Linked DNA regions of Homo sapiens. The protein of the gene in region 3 interacts with the protein of the main gene of each other region in a biochemical or structural test. Each region holds a gene or a part of one and is shown on either strand. Other genes may lie near its edges.

Region 1 (3,142 bases), on a different chromosome or scaffold from region 3:
ATAAGGTCTCACTATGTTGCCCAGGCTTGTTTCAAACTCCTGGTCTCAAGCAATCCTCCCACTTCAACCTCCTAAAGTGCTGAGATTACAGGCGTAAGCCACTGCCCTCAGCCCTCAAAGCAGTATTAAAGCTAGTCTAGACTATATTATGGTACAGAAAGAACAAGAAGTTGATTGAGTCAAGCATTTGATTGATTTATTGCTCGATTTTATATTGGCAACCATAAGGGTTGCTGTTAATTGTTACTAGTATCAAAGTTTGGAAAATTCTGCCCAGTTATTGTTCAATCTTTGAAGACTGAGGAACAAGCCATGTTCCTCTTAAGCATTTAATGACGTTCTTGCAATTTTATTATTTTCTTTCCTTTAATCCTTCTCCAAATATACATTTTTTGCCTCTTCCTTTTTAGCCTTCATCTACTCCTTGCAGATTGCTTTGTGGCAAGGATTGCTTGTTTCAACTAGGCTGTCTTTCCTTTGGCCTAAGAGTCCACAGGCAAACCTGAGCTGTGCCCACTTGCTAGGCTTGCTATAGGGACCTGAATTTGCAAAGGAAGGGGAACAGTAGAGAATAAATAATGGGAGACAGTGAGCCTATGGCTATGTCTTTTCAGATGCCTTCTGCCTGGTTTGTTTTAGATTGCCATTGCCTCAGTCCCCTCTGTGGGATAGGCCAAGACTTGTGTGCTGTCTTGACCCATGTGGCAGCTACTTAATTCCCACTGTGGGTCTCAGCTCTCGTGTGCTGGGGCAGCCAAGAAGGGAGGCAGTTAAGAAGTTAGGGTGCTTAGCAGTGTTCTAAGTTTAGCCCGCTAAGGAAGCATTTCAGATAGTTCTGTTCTCCTTTTTTGTGTGGAAAATAAATAGCTGTCCAAGCCAGGCACGGTGCCTCACGCCTGTAATCCCTTTGGGAAGCTGAGGTAGGCAGATCACGAGGTCAGGAGTTCGAGATCAGCCTGGCCAGCGTGGTGAAACCCCGTCGCTACTAAAAAGACAGAAATTTGGCCGGGCATGGTGGGGCGTGCCTGTAATCCCAGCTACTTGGGAGGCTGAGGCAGAAGAATTGCTTGAACCCGGGAGGTGGAGGTCTTTGGGCTTGTATGTTGATGGTGATATTTGTAGAGCATTAACTAAGTTCTAGTCACTGTTCTAAAAATTTTACATCTATGCACTCATCTAATCCTCATAACATTTCTGGGGTTTAGGCTCTATTATTGTCTTCATCCTACAGATGTGGGAATCCTAGAGTATAAATCCTTGCCTAAACAGCAAGTACGTTTTCACAAACCCAAATAATCTTATTAAAATAATTGTTTAAATAAAAGTATATTTTATTGTTTTTCTTGTTTTTTAAAAGAAAGCTTGTTGGTACTACTAGATTATTTTTTGAGGGCATAGTATTCTCAATATCCTCCTTTTATACAGCAAAAATATTTTAAATGGATGAGATGGAATGGTAGTACTAGAAAGAAAGGTAAAAAATTTAATGACAAATCTCAACACCTAGAATTAAATTGCTAGCTTCACTGGGGTTTCCTAATAATAAAAACTTTTTTTTTTTTTTTTTAATCTCACAGCAAACTTTGAAACAAAAATGGGTGGAGTACAGATCTCTGCAGTTACAGGAACATCGTCTGCTTCATGGTAAATGCAATTTCCTGTTCAGAAACCACACTAACATTACTTCTTTCAGTATTTCTGCCTCAAAGTTGGTTTAAGATTATCATCATTATAAGAAAAATTTGTCTAGTGCTGGTCAAGGAAATGGGTCTGTGTTTCTTTGGCATGAGCTTTGGAATGGCTGTATTTGGAGGAGGGGTAAGGCAAGTCAGATCCACTACTGCGTATCATGACGCAGATGCACATGCACACAGATGCACATGCTCGAAAACAGGCACCTGGAGATTTTAGAAAATCATTGGGGAAGATTGCCTAACTTTCCTTCTACTTCAGTGAATGAATTACATTTCTGAAAACAATCACGGCTAAGGGGCTGTATAGTTTTTAGAAGCTATTAAAGCTGGAATGGTTGCACACTTATTGGGTAGAGCTCCTGTCTTTTGTTTAAATTGCATAAGTTGCATTTATGCAGAGAAATTCTTTTTCATGGCCCCCAAGACAAAGACATAAATGCGTAAGATGAATACAACAGTAAATGCATAGCTCTTGCCATTGAGTGCATTTTTAAGGGAAGGGTTGAGTTTAAAATGTGTTAATTCGCTATTTGTTGTATGATAGATGTAACCAAAGGAATGAACTTTTGTGTACAAATAATTCACTGAAACCACTACGTGGGTGTGAAATATAGCTTATCTCTTCTTTAAATAGCACCAAGCTTAAGTCTGTAACCTAGAATATCTGTTAAAAGTGATAATCAATTTGTTTACCAAAAAAGATAACAATTTAATCCTTAACTAGTCACTAATTTATGGCTTAGAGTTCTGGTATGAACTTCTGTTTTTTTTTTTTTAAATTGAAGTGTTTGAAACTTATGTACAAGTTACTTCTCTTTTTTATGTCTTCATTTAATATTTTTAAAAAATTCATAATAGTTCTTTTGGGTAGTGAAGTTTGTTAGAGAGGCAGAAATATTTAATACAAAAACTTCTTTATGGCCTTGTAAATTCAGCCACCTCCTTGCTTTCTTTAGACATGAGGGCTTTTTAGCCTCATTTCCACTTCTGGAGCATCCTGAATGGCCCAGTGAATATAAATTCTTGCTGTTCTATAGAAACAGCCTTGTATAGACAACATTGTTAGGTCAGGATCCTCATAAAGTCATTGTTGTACATATTTTTTGAGCAATTGAAGGAGTTCTGCTTTTTCTAGATGTATAGTAAACATCCAGGGCATGTGATTCTATAAGGCAATTGCTCTCCAATCAAAAGAAATTCATCACTTATTGCAAGATGAAATGAAGTAGGTTGTATTAGCAAAAAGGAAAGCATTATGACTAGTCACCATGGGGCTGGCTGTACTCAACCTTGCAAATCATCTGAAAGAACAGTTTCTTTTTATATTGTCAACCGAGGACAAAAGACAGCAGCAGTGGAGATAATCAGTACAAAATAAAACCATTTTAGAGTGTACAGTATTCTATTATTTTTTCTGAAGCATAGTCACTTACTGATTACGTTTTTCC
Region 2 (3,757 bases), on a different chromosome or scaffold from region 3:
TGTCTCTACTAAAAACACAAAATTAGCCAGGCACTTGCCTGTTATCCCAGCTACTCGGGAGGCTGAGGCAGGATAATCGCTTGAACCCAGGAGGCGGAGGTTGCAGTGAGCCAAGATCACGTCACGGCACTCCAGCCTGGGTGACAGAGTTTGGTGAGCTTGGATAAGTCATTTCTCCTCTCTGAGCCTCAGTCTCTTCAGCCGTAAGTGTGAAAAATAATAAAACCTCCCCCAAAGATTGTCATGGGGATTATGACAAAGCAGCTAATGGCATTTTGAAAAGTGCTGTAGCAACAAAATATGGAACTATCACCAACAAAATCCCCCCTTTAGGTAATAAAAACCTTTTACCGGGAGATGGGCCTTGGGTTTTCAGACCCACTACTGACTTGACAGGCAGAGGATGCAGTTCCAAATGTGGATTTGGAGCTGGGCTTTGGGCATCTCTCTCCCCCCTCAGCTCCTGTTTCCTTACTCATTAAGTGGGGGGTCATTCCTGCTGGACGCCTGTCTAGGGTCCTTGTTTGGGGGCGGTCAAAGGAGATCAGAGAGCACAGACGGGAATGTGCTTTGCAAACATGAAAGAGGGCTAGAAAGGAGGAGGAGGGACTTGGGGAAGGTGGCCAGCCAAGGGGGGAAAGGAACCTTTGGCCTGAGCACTGGTCTTAGTCTGGGCTGGAGAGTTTAGTTTGCCTGCTGGGGAGAGGGGAGGTGTCTCCTATGAGGTAGGGTTTCACCTTGAGACATAAGGTGTCAGAGAAGAAACTCTGATGGAAGAAGCTCTAAGAGGCTCCAAGTGTGGGCAGAGAAGGAAGCGGGCCAAAGGACCTGGGCTTGGCCCTGGAATCAGCCCCTCATCACTGTCTTCCCAGGCAATCCCATCTGCCATGAAAGGACCTTGGCAGAGGCAGCTCCAGTGGGCTCCAGGGTCACCTTCATGACAAGACTTGCCGCCACAGGCTCACCTGCACATCTATAGCACCAATGCCCCCACCCTTAGGCTGCAGATTCCTGGTCTCGCCCCCAGGGAAAGCAGGCTTGACACCACCCAGCACCCAGACCAAGACAGGTCTCAGCCTGCTACAGAGGGAAAAAAGCAAGTTGACTAGAACCCTGTTCTGCCTTCCCATTCAGACTGTCAGAGCATCTGCCACAGCCCAGGGAGGGGGCTGATCCCACATACGGAGCCCCCACCCCAGGCCTTTGGAGGAAGCCTGGGGATCAGGAGGCCTTGTTTGGAGTCCTGGCTCTGCCCAAGCTCACAGTGCTTCCACAGCCAATCACCTAACCGGGCTGGGACTGTTTGACCATCTGTAAAATAAAAGGAGCTGGACTTGGTTCACAGGTCTCCACAGCGCAGGACTGTGATCAGGAAAGAGTTAATGGAGGCCAGGATCTGCCTCAGGAAGGCGAGGGTTAATTTGGGGGGCGGGGGGTGGAGGCTTTCTCTGCTTTTCCTGTGGAGAGTGAGGTTTGGCTGCCACCAAAGTTACTTCTAGTCCTTGCTGTCCACTCCTGCCCTCAGTCTGGACCTGCCCAAGGACCCCTGCAATTAGGCCTCCCATGCAGAGGTGAGTGTACCCTGAGCCCAGGGCTGGGGTAAGAAGGAACCCAGGGGCCTGAGGGCAGGGAGACTGGTGCCAAACTAGTGAGCCTAAAAGATGGCCCATGCCCAGAGCAGAAGCCTTGGGCAGAGTTGAGACCACAAGTTTCAGGACTGGGAGAAGGCAGGCAAAGGAATGGAGGGCCCGAGGCTGCCTGCCAGGCTTCTAGGGCGGGATGTCTGAGGTCCGGCCTCCAGGCTAGCCCAGAAGGCAGGGAAGAGGCTGTGGATGACAGACTATTTTGGTCCTTGTGATTAGGAACTTTTTATAGTCTCCCTGCTCAGGGCTGGGGAGAAGAGGAGAGGACAGAGGGCACCCATGGGGTCAGACAAGCAGTGCCTTCCTGGGACCTTGGAATCTGACCCACTGCCAAGGAGACTCCCTGGGAGACAGGGAGGGGGACACTGCCAGACTCTCCTTGGTTCCCAGGCCTCAACTACCTATGAGCAGACTGACTACACACTAGATGCTGGGTGCAGGGGTGGGCTGGACCTGGCAGGGTCTCTGCCCCAAGGCCTCTCACAGACTCCTTCCCCACTTCCCTGGCTAATTCTGTTCCTTTGTTGTCCCCAGATCCAAGGTCCCTCAGCCTCCAGGACTCAGGGGGAGTAGGGGAAGATAGGGGTGGGGTCGGGTGTGCAGGGCCATGTGGGTGGCCCATTCTGTTACTGCCAAGAGAACTGTCAGCTCTTGATTTACAACCCCTCCTCGCTCCTTGCCCCAGCAGAAGGGAGGTGGAAAAGGGTCATGAGGTCTTAGGATAAAAAAGGGACAAGGACCCTGGGGGCAAATTTCTGGGAGTGGGAGCGCAGGTTATTAGGAAGAATTAGTGGAAGGAACTTTTTAGTGAGGCAAGGGGCCCATTTCTAACGGAAATTGCTTGGTTTTATAGCAGCGGGAATACACGCAAAATATCAGTGAGTTCTTTTTTTTTTTCTTTTTTTTTTTTTGAGACGGAGTCTCGCTCTGTTGCCCAGGCTGGAGTGCAGTGGTGCGCGATCTCGGCTCACTGCAACCTCCGCCTCCCAGCTTCAAGCGATTCTCCTGCCTCAGCTTCCCAAGTAGCTGGGATTACAGGTGTGCGCCACCCCGCCTGGCTAATTTTTGTATTTTCAGTAGAGATGGGGTTTTGCCATGTTGGCCAGGCTGGTCTGGAACTCCTCACCTAAGGTAATTCACCCACCTCGGCCTCCCAAAGTGCTGGGATTACAGGCATGAGCCATCGCGCCTGGCCTCAGTGGGAAGTTCTGATAGGCAAGTGAGAGATCCAATCTGAACTGCAAGGCAAGAAACCTGGGTGACAAAGCAAGACTCCGTCTAAAGAAAAAAAAAAAAGAAACCTGGGTTCCAGTCCTGGCTCCTAACTCTCAATAGGACCTGAGCAAGCCCCCCTCCTCTCCAAGCCAGTTTCCTCTTCATGAAATGGAAATGCAAAGGTTAAACAAGGTGATGTTTACAGTTTGGCATTCTGCGATCCCCTTGGCAGGGGCAGAGTAGCTGGCAGTAGCTGATAGGGCCTGGGGACCACCTCCCTCTCCTGCCCCGATGGCCCTGCTGGGCCTGGGCAGGGCAGTTGGCTGCAATTACTGGAGGCTCCTACCCTGTGGTTATATCCCCGACCTCGGTGTTTGGGGGCGGGAAGGGTGGGCCCTGCTGGAGCCAGCCTGTGGCTGGGAGCCTTCTTGTCTTGGGCTCAAAGCTGCTGGGTTGGGAAGAGGTATTTTTTCCGGTTGAAGCCACTTTCAGGAATTGGGCCGGGACCAGCCCTGTTTCCTTTTCCAAGTGTCCTGCTTGCTAAGGCCTGCTTGCACGACCCTGTGGCCAGATTGGGGCACCTTCAAAGGGGAATATGTTTCTGAGTGGCCAGAGAGACCCCACTCAATGTCTCTGAAGGACAGGGAAAGGGGATGGCCTGAGCCTCTGCTCCCTGGATGTGGCACCGGCTAACCTGGATGGGAGAGGGTGGCTGACTGATCCTATACTGAGGAATGCCGGCAGGAGAGGACCAGGGGCATTTCCTACCCTTCCCCTGACCTTCCTCTCTCCCTGCAGGTCAGTGAGAGCCCAAGCCAATTGCTCTAGGCCCCGTGGCTGGCTACTTATGGGGCACTGTCCTGACCAGCTCTGCTAAGATGCTCCTGGCCCCTCCCTCC
Region 3 (3,278 bases):
ATTTCCAAAGGGGTTTCCATCCAGAACCCTGCCCTTTTTCCCTAAGAAAATTAAATTTATTATAATAATGACTACTTTCTGAGTTTCTCATATATTTTTCAGAAAGATTATCAGCTTCAAGGTGGAACCAGAGCGTTTTAAAACAATCTAAAAAAAGTTTCAGAATGTCAAAGAAATGGGAGTAATTAAAAATTTTAGAATGCTAGTTATAATTACATGAATGAATACATTCAGTTTTATATTCATACATTTTGGGAGAATTTTACATATTATACACATAGCTGTATATATATATATATATATATATATATATATATATATATACACACACACACACACATACATAATATATGGCAACTCGAACATTTAAAAAATGAACTGCTATCTATGTACATAAAACTTCAGGATTGCCTTTTTCATGTTTAGTTAAGGTTCATTACTACAAAATTATTGGCTCTCTAGCCTGTGATTTCTGGATAATGGAGTACTGTTTCAGAAGTTACAAAAGTAAAATTTAAGTAGATTATTATTTTGAGCAATTTTCAAAATTGTTATCTTTAGTTTGCCAATTCAAAATAATTTTACCTAACTCTATGGCTATCCACCTTGAAAATCAACTCCAGTCACTGGGATCATGACACTTGTTATACATAAAAATAAGTACCATTTAATAATTTTTAAACCAAGGATCATTTTTTATTGTCATTGGGATATTATGGTCAAAGCAGTTAGTATCTGGACATAATCTATAATGTCACATGGTTTTATTGCTAACTTGGGTTATTATCTAAATTTGCCTTAATAATCTATTTGTTGCTTTAAAGGAAACTTCTTAAGAACTACTATAAATTTATTGGATTCTAGAATCTAGGATTTAGGCTACTAATGCTGTAGGCATACTGGGTTTCTCTTATAATTTCTATTTCAGAAAGCTATGTTCAGCAATTGTATAGTTAGAGTTAGCCAAAATAAACAAAGTCCTGATGTATTTGACATGTGATATTACCAAATATCACACAGAAATGGAGACTGCATAATAAAGGCATGGCTGTAATGAAAGTGAAAATTCTACTTTTTAGGGCCATCACATTTATTTCACTAAGCTATGGTTAAATGACTTATCCAGGCACATCACCTCTATGGGTATTTGTACATTTGAAAATGAAAAAATATATATATAGTCTTAGGTTGTGTACAGTCATGCCCTGAGTGCTGAAATGTGGACACTGACCTATCCACAAGGAGCCCTCAGGCACATTAATACGTTGGCACATCATGTTTCCCAAAAGCACATGCATGTGTGTGTCTATTTCAACTCTTAACAATTGCTCAACACCACTCTAAACCATTTTCGCTTCCATAAAGCTAATTATCGCAGATCTTCCCAAAAGAGAAGTTCACATTTCCTTGATCACAGCTATACTCTCATTACCTAGGAAGAACCCTGGGACCTCTGGGGCTGTTTGCCCCCGCAGAGCACTGCTCATTCCTGCAGATTCATTTGGGACTTGGGTTTCAAGTTCAATGATTCTTCATTGAGATACAATGAACTTATCTAACTGTATTCTTGTTAGTACGGGCATCTAGACTGAAATGAACTAAACTGCATCATTTCATTTTATATTAGGAGAAATCTAATGTGCATTAATTAAGTAGTCAATCATGAATACCATTTATAATAGAAATAATTCCTTTAAGTATATTTTCTAAGTAATACATTTTATATCACATAAGGCTAATATACATGATGTAAAAGTCATCTATTGTACCAAGATGATTGAAATATTTTGCAGATAAACTTCTTGTGCTGCTATAATTATCCCAAAGCTGTTTAAAGAGGCTCCATGCTGCAGCATGAAAGTACATTAGAGAATACAGCACATTTCCTGAGTGAAGAACTGAAATTTCTCTTAAAATTTCAAGTGTGTGTTGAAACATTGTCATAGGGCATCACCTTGATACTGTGCTTTAATTCATGTTGCTTTGAGAAGCCAAGAATTTGGTGTAAACACATGTAGTTTGAAAGTTTCCACTGTTATTAAAATAGTATAATCCATTTTGTCACCAATTCCCTGTCCTAGGACAAGAAACGTGAATTTGTGTTCTGGCCATGAAATCTAGAATCAAAAAAAGAAAAAAAAAAAAAAAAAGAAAAACCTATAGATTTCCAACTTTAACAATATGACAACTTGGGTGTTTTGTTTTATTGTGAAAAAGATTTTAAACAATGTGTCAATACTGCCTATTGTCATATATTTTCTTTTCCTTCAAAGTCCTCCCAGCTGGCGTTCCAAATGACAACTTTGGTGAGGGAAAAAACAAATTCAGCAGCCAGGTGTCTGGCACCTAACACCAGACAAAGATGACCATCAATATTTAAACACCTAATCCTTTAAAGTGTGAATAATGTTTACATGAAAAGCTAGCAACAATACAGAATGTGGTTACCTTAATTTAATAATGAGCTGCATCTCTGAGTATGTTTTAGGAAGAATTTCTATTATCCAAGAATCCTAAAGGAAGATATTAACTGAGGTGAATGTGGGAATTTGTATAAGTCAATGCTTCTAAAGGAGAACTTCTTTCGGTAATCATTAAACAAAAAGTACACTTCTTGGCTAGGTGCAGTGGCTCATGCTTGTAATCTCAGCACTTTGGGAGGCCAAGGTGGGTGGATCACTTGAGGTCAGGAGCTCGAGACCACCCTGGCCAACATGGTGAAACCCCATCTGTACTAAAAATACAAAAATTAGCCGGACATGGTGGCACCCAACTGTAATCTCAATTACTTGGGAGGCTGAGGCACGAGAGTCGCATGAACCCAGGAGGCAGAGGTTGCAGCGGGCTGAGATCGCGCCACTGTACTCCAGCATGGGTGACAGAGAGAGACTCCATCTCAAAACAAACAAACAAAAAAACAAAGTACATTTTTTAACAGATATGTAAAAAATATACAAAACATTTTATATATATTATATAATACATAATATACATATTATATAATGTATATATTTTGTGTGTATGTATACAAAATAGCTGACAATTATTTCCCAATTTTTTAAGTTGTTCAATGGGTTTGGTTCTCAACACAACAGACAAAACAGGTACCCTAAGGATCACATCACATTTCTAAAAGCACAAAAACCTCCAACTGCAAACTTAGAGGCATCTCTAAACATCACTAAAATTTGCAGAGGCATGATACATTTGCTGACCATGTTCTAATAAAACCATTGTTTAAAGTAGTAGGTTCCTTTTGTCAGTCAAAATTTTACATG

What was found.
Region 1: the proteins of PALS2 (region 3) and CYTIP interact in a test that uses a peptide from one of them, tested with the Homo sapiens proteins (one large-scale study listed by IntAct).
Region 2: the proteins of PALS2 (region 3) and FAM110D interact in a test that uses a peptide from one of them, tested with the Homo sapiens proteins (one large-scale study listed by IntAct).

The regions. Positions count from the first base shown.
Region 1 is NC_000002.12:157,417,025-157,420,166, reverse strand, and holds part of CYTIP (cytohesin-interacting protein), read left to right. Parts: intron 1-1,577; coding exon 1,578-1,644; intron 1,645-3,142. UniProt on the Homo sapiens protein: By its binding to cytohesin-1 (CYTH1), it modifies activation of ARFs by CYTH1 and its precise function may be to sequester CYTH1 in the cytoplasm.
Region 2 is NC_000001.11:26,157,556-26,161,312, forward strand, and holds the start of FAM110D (protein FAM110D), read left to right. Parts: upstream 1-1,523; 5' UTR 1,524-1,571; intron 1,572-3,656; 5' UTR 3,657-3,736; coding exon 3,737-3,757.
Region 3 is NC_000007.14:24,688,452-24,691,729, reverse strand, and holds part of PALS2 (protein PALS2), read right to left. Parts: 3' UTR 1-3,278.